Linked DNA regions of Homo sapiens. The protein of the gene in region 2 purifies or fractionates together with the protein of the main gene of each other region. This does not show direct contact. Each region holds a gene or a part of one and is shown on either strand. Other genes may lie near its edges.

Region 1 (3,500 bases), on a different chromosome or scaffold from region 2:
CCTTTAGTGCATTTTATAATAGGGAAGTATGTTACTCAGCATGCATTGTTGATGCCCTACATATAAATGAATAAGAATAAAAATACATCTTTATAGTACTTATTATTCTACAAACAAGTGATTTTGAAAGTGTTTACAATGAAGTGTACAGCAAGAAATATGACTTAAAAAAGCTTATGTTACAAACAAAAATTGAATTTGCACAACAGAAAAAGCAGAGCTACTTGATATGGGGCCTACATCTTTGTCTGTGATTCAGCCTTATTCCAGTCCCCAGTCGGCTATAGGTTTTCAAGTACCTTTGCAAATGAGAAGTTTGAAACCTATGGTATAGAAGGAAAGGATTTAGGAGGATTCAGAATTAGAATATCTGAATTCTTGTCTCAGGTACACCACTTACAGGCTATGTAACTTTGAGCCTGTATTTTCTCAGAGGGTAATGGTGAAGATTAAATAAAAATAATGTATTTGCAAGCAATACCTGTTATCGCCATTTTGGACTTTCAGTAGCCACTCCCTCCTTTCTTCACCCTGAAGTCATAGCCTTACACAACTTATGCTAAAGAAGCTCGTCATGGGTTAGGGACTAATAACACACAGTAGATGATGAACAGCAACTTACTGATTCCATAAACAGGCTGAGGAAAGTTGTGCTGCCCTTGGCTATACTGATATGAGACATCCATGCCTATGAGCTTTGTATATGTTAAAACTTGAATTTTGTAGGATATACAAGTTTGTGGTTTCTATGTTAGGTACAGAATTTGTAATTTAAAAACTTGCCATACATTCATGTGCTTGCATAGTAAATGGCACAGACTATTTCAACATGAGCTCTGCTTAAAAACCAGTGTTTTAATTGTTTTTCTACAAAATGGAAAACAGGATAACTGACTCATGAAAAAACTTTAGAGCAAAAGCAACTTAATCATCAAGCAAATCCAAGTACAAATGATATCCTAAAAAGAATCCAATGCTTCAAAAGATATATCGAGTTCCCTTTGATTAGAAAGATGACTTAAGATTTGAGTTCATTTTTATTTCTTGTATCTTTTCTAAGGCAAAGGTTGACAAACTATGGCCAGTGAGCCAAATCTGATTCATTGCCTGTGTGTGTAAATAAAGTTTTATTGGTGCACAGCCATGCCCACTTGTTTATGTATTGTCTGTGGTTGTTTTGTGCTACATAGCAGAGTTGAGTAGTTGTGACACAGCCCATATAGCCCACAAAGCCTCAAGTATTATCTGACCCTTCACAGAGAAAGTCTGCCGACTCCTGTTCTAAGGCATCAAAGAACCAGAAGACCTCAATTCATCATAGCTGACCTGAAGGAGGCAGAGGGTGAAACAAACTCGGCATGAAAAACATTTTGAGGCACAGGAGAGGATATAGACAACATCGTCATGTTTATCTCAACTCTTTTAAAATTCTACTTTCTTTTTTTTTTTTTTTTTTCTGAGACAGAGTCTAGCTCTGTCGCCCAGGCTGGAGTACAGTGGCGGATCTCGGCTCACTGCAAACTCTGCCTCCCGGGTTCAAGTGATTCTCTTGCCTCGGCCTCCTAAGTAGCTGGGATTACAGGCATGCGCCACCACGCCCAGCTAATTTTTGTATTTTTAGTAGAGACGGGGTTTCACTGTGTTGGACAGGCTGGTCTCGAACTCCTGACCTTGTGATCTGCCCGCCTCGGCCTCCCAAAGTGCTGGGATTACAAGCATGAGCCACCGCACCTGGCCTAAAACTCTACTTTCAAGTCACATAGGTATCTAGGATTTTGGTTCTTGCAACCTTTTCGATGACATATGAAAAAAATTCCTAAGAGTAAAGTTAATGATATAAAATGTATTTTATTTTATTTTTTGAGACAGAGTTTCAACTCTGTCACCCAGGCTGGAGTGCAGTGGTGCGATCTCCGCTCACTGCAACCTCTGCCTCAGAATCAAGTGATTCTTGTGCCTCAGCCTCCTGAGTACCTGGAATTACAGGCACGTGCCACTATGCCCAACTCATTTTTGTATTTTTAGTAGAGATAGGGGTTTCACCATGTTGGCCAGGCTGGTCTTGAACTTCTGACCTCAAGTGATCCAACTGCCTTGGCCTCCCAAAGTGCTGGGATTACGGGTGTGAGCCACTATGCCCAGTCTAAAATGTATTTTAAATTGCTCACTTGAAGTCAGTAGAAAAAGATCTATTCACAGAATGAACTATATCTTACAACATTCCAAATCTAAAATTATTTAGACATCCACTCACCTGAACAATTGAATGTACACCAACTGTCTGCATAGCTTGGCTTTCATCATCTGAGGTAATAGCAACAAAACTAAACCCCCGAAAAAGCTGATGTGCATTAGCACTAGGTGGAATGCCAGGTGAATCTGAAAAGAGTAAGAAGTGACAAAGAAGATTCATTTGAAAGGAAATTAAGGGAAAAACTGTTGACACTATGACCTTTTTCACTTATTCTGGAATTCTATTTCTCAGGTACACAGTATATACCTCTTGCTTTCCAGGATACCTGTGAGGCACTGTATCAGATCTGTTCTGATTGTGTATTGCCATTACAACACCAACATCCTAGTCCCTCGGAGCCTAGAAAATAGCTAATTCATTTGAAGACTATAATACATCGATGAATTATAGGGTTAATGGTATTCAAAATTAATGCTGTCCCATGGAATTTCCTGAAATGATGGAAATTTTCTTTAACTTTACAGTCTGATAGCCACTAGCTACATGCAGCTTTTCGACATTTGAAACGTGCCTAGCGTGACTGAGAAACTACACTTTAAATTTTAATTAATTTAAATTTAATTAGCCACATGTGGCTACTGGCTACCATATTAGAAACTGCAGCCCTCAATAATAACCTAGTTGGGGTGGAACAGGGGAGATACAAGGTTGATCTACAGCAAATTTAGGAGATGTGAAGATAGCTTAGAGAGTTATCCAGGAAAAGATTTTCTTTTTTTCTTTTTGAGACAGAGTGTCGCTCTGTCACCCAGGCTGGAGTGCAGTGGTGCAATTTTGATGCACTGCAACCTCCACCTCCCAGGTTCAAGCGATTCTCGTGCCTCAGCCACCCAAGTAGCTGGGATTACAGGCACATGCCACCAAACCTGGCTAATTTTGGTATTTTTAGTAGAGACAGCGTTTCACTATGTTGGCCAAGCTGGTCTCCAACTCCTGGCCTCAAGCGATCTGCTCGCCTCAGCCTCCCAAAGTGCTGGGATTACAAGTGTGAGCCACCGCGCCCAGAGTCTGGAAAAGATTTTCTGATGAAACAAGAAAAAAACATATTTGTTGTCTTATATTTGGATTTTCACATTTTCTCCTTACCTTTGGGAGTTTTTGCAGTAAACTCAGGATCAAAATAGAATGTATCTTCAGGCCTGCCCGTTGCAGGTTTAAATGGCGGATGAATTTCTCTTCTATACAGTTTCTGGAGGGGAAAAAAAAAAGAGACTTAGACATATTTTAATTATAAAGAAATATTTCA
Region 2 (5,200 bases):
AATCTATAGCCCTTACTCAATCTATAGCCCTTATTCAAATTTTGCCACTTGTTTGACTAATGTCCTCATAGTAAAATAGAACAAAAATGGTTTTTTTTCCGGTCTAGGATCCAGTCAAGGATGATGCATTGCCTTTAGTTGTCTTGTCTTTAATCTCCTTTAGCTGAGAACAGTTCTTCAGTTATTCTTGTCTTTCAGGACGTTGACATTTTGGGAGAACAGGCCATTCATTTTGTAGAATGTTCCTTAGTTTGGGTCTGTCTGATGTTTTCTGTTAGATTCATATTATGAATTTTTGGCAAAAATACCACAAACATGATGTCATATCCTACTCAGTGGTGATTTAACTTTGATCACTTGCTTTAAGGTAAGTCCTCACTGTAAAGTTACTGTTTTTTACTTTGTGGTTAATAAGATCTTGTAGGAGGTATTTTGAGACTATCCTGTTCCTCATCAAACTTTCATGCAGTAAATACTTCTATCACCACTGACGATTCTTGCTGAAAACAATTTTTATTATGGGGTTGCAAATGGTGATTTTCCAATTCCATCATTTCTTCTATATTTGTTCACCTTCTACTGTAAGAAAGAACTTGCCCTTCACCCCTGTTTGTTTTCCATTCATTTATTTATATCAGTATGGACCCATGGATTCTTATTTCATTCTATGTGTTATAATCCAATACTATCATTATTTATTTATTTTTTATTTTTATTTATTTACTTACTTATTTTTTGAGACGGAGTCTAGCTCTGTCCCCCAGACGGTAGTGCAGTGGCACGATCTCGGCTCACTGCATCCTCTGCCTCCCAGGTTTAAGCGATTCCCCCGCCTCAGCCTCCTGAGTAGCTGGGATTACAGGTGCCCGCCACCATGCCCAGCTAATTTTTGTATTTTTAGTAGAGACAGAGTTTCACTGTGTTGGCCAGGCTGGTCTCAAACTCCTGACTTCACAATCCACCCACGTTGGCCTCCCAAAGTGCTGGGATTACAAGTGTGAGCCACTGTACCCGGCCTTTATTTTATTTTTTTATTGAGACGGAGTCTCACTCTGTCACCCAGGCTGGAGTGCAGTGGCACGATCTCAGCTCACTGCAACCTCCACCACCTGGGTTCGGGTTCAAGTGATTCTCCTGTTTCAGCCTCCCAAATAGCTGGGACTACAGGTGTGTGCCACCACGGCTGGCTAATTTTTTTTTTTTTTTTTTTTTTGAGACAGAGTCTTGCTCTGTCGCCCAGGCTGGAGTACAGTGGTGCGATCTCGGCTCACTGCAAGCTCTGTCTCCTGGGTTCATGCCATTCTTCTGCCTCAGCCTCCCAAGTAGCTGAGACTACAGGCACCCGCCACCACGCCTGGCTAATTTTTTGTGTTTTTAGTAGAGATGAGGTTTTACCATGTTAGCCAGGATGGTCTGGATCTCCTGACCTCATGATACACCTGCCTTGGCCTCCCAAAGTGCTGGGATTACAGGCATGAGCCATTGTACCCAGCCTCATTATTTATTTTGATGCTAAAATAATTGCAGATGGCTGGTGGGAATCCCTTTCCGTGACCTTTTGATATGCCCTCATTATTCTTTGAATACTTCATTACTTTCTGGCATAGCAAAGTGTTCCAGACTCATACTTCCCCTGGCTGTGCTCTGGAACCAGCCATTTCTCTGAAGGAGGCCTGGTTCCATTATTGTTTATCTGTTTATTATTAATTTTTGAGACAGGGTCCTGCTCTGTTGCCCAGGCCGGAGTGCAGTGGTGCTTTCTTGGCTCACTGCAATCTCGGCCCCTCCAAGGTCAAACAATCCTCCCACCTCAGTCTCCAGTGTAGCACACCACCACATTCAGCTAATTTTTGTATTTTTTGTAGAGACGGGGTTTCACTGTGTTGGCCAGGCTGGTCTTGAACTCCTGGGCTCAAGTGATCCAAATGCCTCGGCCTCCCAAAGTGCTGGGATTGCAGGCATGTGCCACCGTGCCCGGCCTGTTTTTTATTTTTTGTAAACTTTTTTTTATGATTTAGAAGGACTATCTTCAAACCAGTACAAGTATTTCATAAATAATATCTGATTGTTTTCTAACCAGTTGAGTAATTTGTTGCACGATAAGCCACCTCACATCTTTCAGCAAGAAAAATACTAAGTCTGAACAGTAAAGACATTACACAATGAGTTAGGACACAATTAAAATCTGCTTTAAATATTTTTTTGGGGGAGAGGACACCACACTTCTCTACTAAATAAAGAGAAACAATTTTGCAGTCCAGAGGTCTTTTATTTTTTTATACCTATCATGCCATGAATTCATAGGGAATAGGTTCCAGCAGCTCAGGCTCCTTCCCGTTGGTTCTCACACAGTGGGATTCCCTGGGTGGAGTAGGCTGGTGCTTCAGCTGAAACCAGGTACCTTTCTCTTTGGCTTCCTTCTTTTTCTGATCATCTTCTTTCATGCATTTCAGAAGCTATCTTGGGTCTTAGAGCGCTTAATGTGCTCAATGTGCACGTTAATTCTCTTGGCAAGAATTTTGCCCTTAATTTGTTTACAGCAGTGCCAACAACATGCTGGGTAACATTGTAGACTCTTCCAGTTTTTCCCAGGTAATGCTTTTGGGCATTCCTTTTTGAATAGTACCCGTTCGCTTGATGTCTACAGTATTGCCTTTCTTATAGATTTGCATGCACGTGGCCCAAGGAACAACTCCATGTTTTCTAAAAGGCCTAGAGAACATATATTGGGTAATTCTTCTCTTTCCCTGTGTTTGTCGTTTTGGTGAATTACTGGAAGACGGCAGTACCAACCAAAAGCCCTGGTTCCATTTAGTGGTAAATGGTATTTAGAAACCAAGATCTGAGTGCCAGGTGTGCTTGTTGCTACTGGTGTATCATTGCTTCTAGGCCCTCTCAGAGGCCAGTGCTGGGAAATACATGTTTGTATATATGTCTGTGCACATATCTAGTTCTGTATCTGTCTGTCTACATAATAATAAGTTCATCCAGATACTTTAATTATAGTCTAATACCACAGGGTTCATTTCTGCCTTCTCCCTTTCCATATTTGTATTTGTTCTCTGACAGTAAGAAATTTGACTCCCATTATCCACAATGTTTATCTAATTGCTCATCATAGAATACACTTAGTATTCTAATAATAGTAGTTTCAGATTTGTAAATCCATACCTCTGTGGAAAATAAACCTTCTAATTAGAGCTCAGAATTTTTTTACAGTTGTTTTTATATTCAGCGTGAGAGTATAGTCAGAATACTGTGTTCAAAAGTTACTTGGGTCAGTTCTACCTTTCCTTCACCCTCCTTCAGTGTGGTTATGATACTCATTTAAAATAACAGATTCATTTGTTTGTGTTTGTATTCATTTGGGTTTTATTTCCCCCATCCTTGCTGATTTTAAAATTTTATTTTGATTAGGCAAAACACAAACATGGTTCTAAACATCAGAATTTTACAAAAACAGATACTCAGAAGTGTTACTGCTCCCCATCCTGTGTACTCTGTTTCCAGTGCCTCCTTCCCACCCAGTTTTGTCCATCTCCTGTGGGTAGCCAGTCTGATTTGTTTCTGGTTTTTGCTTCCTGTGTTTCTTTTTCCACAAATGAATAGGTACTTGTATATTTCTTATTCTTCTTTCATACACAAAAGGTAGCACATTAGAGGTACTCTTTTGTACTTTGCTTTCTTTGCTATGTGTGTGTGTGGATGAATATACACACACAAAGAATACATATAGTATAGAATATATAGAATAAATATATAGAATATTCTACATAATCTGTACTATGTATACTTTATATATATATAGAGAGAGAGAGAGAGCACTAAAAATAATTGTGACGTAATGTGAATTTATTTTATTATTATTATTTTTTCGAGATGGAGTCTCACTCTGTAGCCCAAGTTGGAGTGCAGTGACACGATCTTGGTTCACTGCAACCTTCGCCCCTGGAGCTCAAGCGATTCTCCTGCCTCACCCTCCCAAGTAGCTGGGACTAGAGGCATGCGCTACCACACCCAGTTAATTTTTTTGTATTTTTAGTAGAGACAGGGTTTCACCATGTTGGCCAGGCTGGTCTTGAACTCCTGAGCTCAGGCGATCCACCCGCCTCAGCCTTCCAAAGTGTGGGATTATAGGCGTGAGCCACCACGCCTGGCATGAGCCACCATGCCCAGTGTGATTTTAAATATGTATCACAATTTATCCGTTCATCTGGCAATGGGGTTATTTCCTTATCTTGGTTATTGTGAATAATGCTGCACTGAGCATGGGAGTGCAGATATGTCTTTAAGCTACTGATTTCATTTCCTTTGGTATATACCCAGAAGAGGAATTGCTGAATCATAGGATGGTTCTATTTTTAATTTTTTTTTTTTTTTTTTTTGATTCGGAGTCTCACTTAGTTGCCCAGGCTGGAGTGCAATGGCACGATCTCAGCTCACTGCAACTTCCGCCTCCTGGGTTCAAGTGATTTTCCTGCCTTAGCCTCCTGAGTAGCTGGGATTACAGGCATGTGCCACCACGCCTGACTAATTTTGTATTTTTAGTAGAGACGGGGTTTCTCCATGTTGGCCAGGCTGGTCTCGAACTCCTGACCTCAGGTGATCTGCCCACCTCGGCCTCCCAAAGTGCTGGGATTGCAGGCATGAGCCGCTGTTCCCTGCCAATTTTTAATTTTTTAAAGAGCCCCTATCCTGTTTTCCTTCATGGCTATACTAACTTACATTCTTTTTTTTTTTTTTTTTTTTTTTTTTAGTGAAAGGAAGTTTATTAAGAAAGTAAAGGAATAAAGAATGCCTACTCCATAGGCAGAGCTGCCCCAGGGGCTGCTGGTTGCCCCTTTTTGTGGTTATTTCTTGATCGTATGCTAAACAAGGGGTGGGTTATTCATGCCTCCTCATTTTAGACCATATAGGGTAAAATGACGTTGCCATGGCATTTGTAAACTGTCATGGTGCTGATGGGTATGTCTTTTAGCATGTTGATGCATTATAATTAGCATATAATGAGCAGCAATGACGACCAGCGGTCACTCATCACCATCTTGGTTTTGGTGGGTCTTAGCTGGCTTCTTTACCACAGCTTGTTTTATCAGCAAGGTCTTTATGACCTGTATCTTGTGCTGATCTCCTATCTTATCCTGTGACTTAGAATGTCTAACTTCTTGGGAATGCAGTCCAGTACGTCCCAGCCTTATTT

Evidence for each region. The genes of interacting proteins can lie anywhere in the genome.
Region 1: the proteins of ALDH9A1 (region 2) and RPS6KA3 fractionate together in Homo sapiens (co-fractionation; one large-scale study listed by BioGRID). This does not show direct contact.

Annotation. Positions count from the first base shown.
Region 1 is NC_000023.11:20,172,910-20,176,409, forward strand, and holds part of RPS6KA3 (ribosomal protein S6 kinase alpha-3), read right to left. Parts: intron 3,444-3,500; coding exon 3,341-3,443; intron 2,380-3,340; coding exon 2,255-2,379; intron 1-2,254. UniProt on the Homo sapiens protein: Serine/threonine-protein kinase that acts downstream of ERK (MAPK1/ERK2 and MAPK3/ERK1) signaling and mediates mitogenic and stress-induced activation of the transcription factors CREB1, ETV1/ER81 and NR4A1/NUR77, regulates translation through RPS6 and EIF4B phosphorylation, and mediates cellular proliferation, survival, and differentiation by modulating mTOR signaling and repressing pro-apoptotic function of BAD and DAPK1.
Region 2 is NC_000001.11:165,673,871-165,679,070, reverse strand, and holds part of ALDH9A1 (4-trimethylaminobutyraldehyde dehydrogenase isoform 1 precursor), read left to right. Parts: intron 1-5,200. UniProt on the Homo sapiens protein: Converts gamma-trimethylaminobutyraldehyde into gamma-butyrobetaine with high efficiency (in vitro). Can catalyze the irreversible oxidation of a broad range of aldehydes to the corresponding acids in an NAD-dependent reaction, but with low efficiency.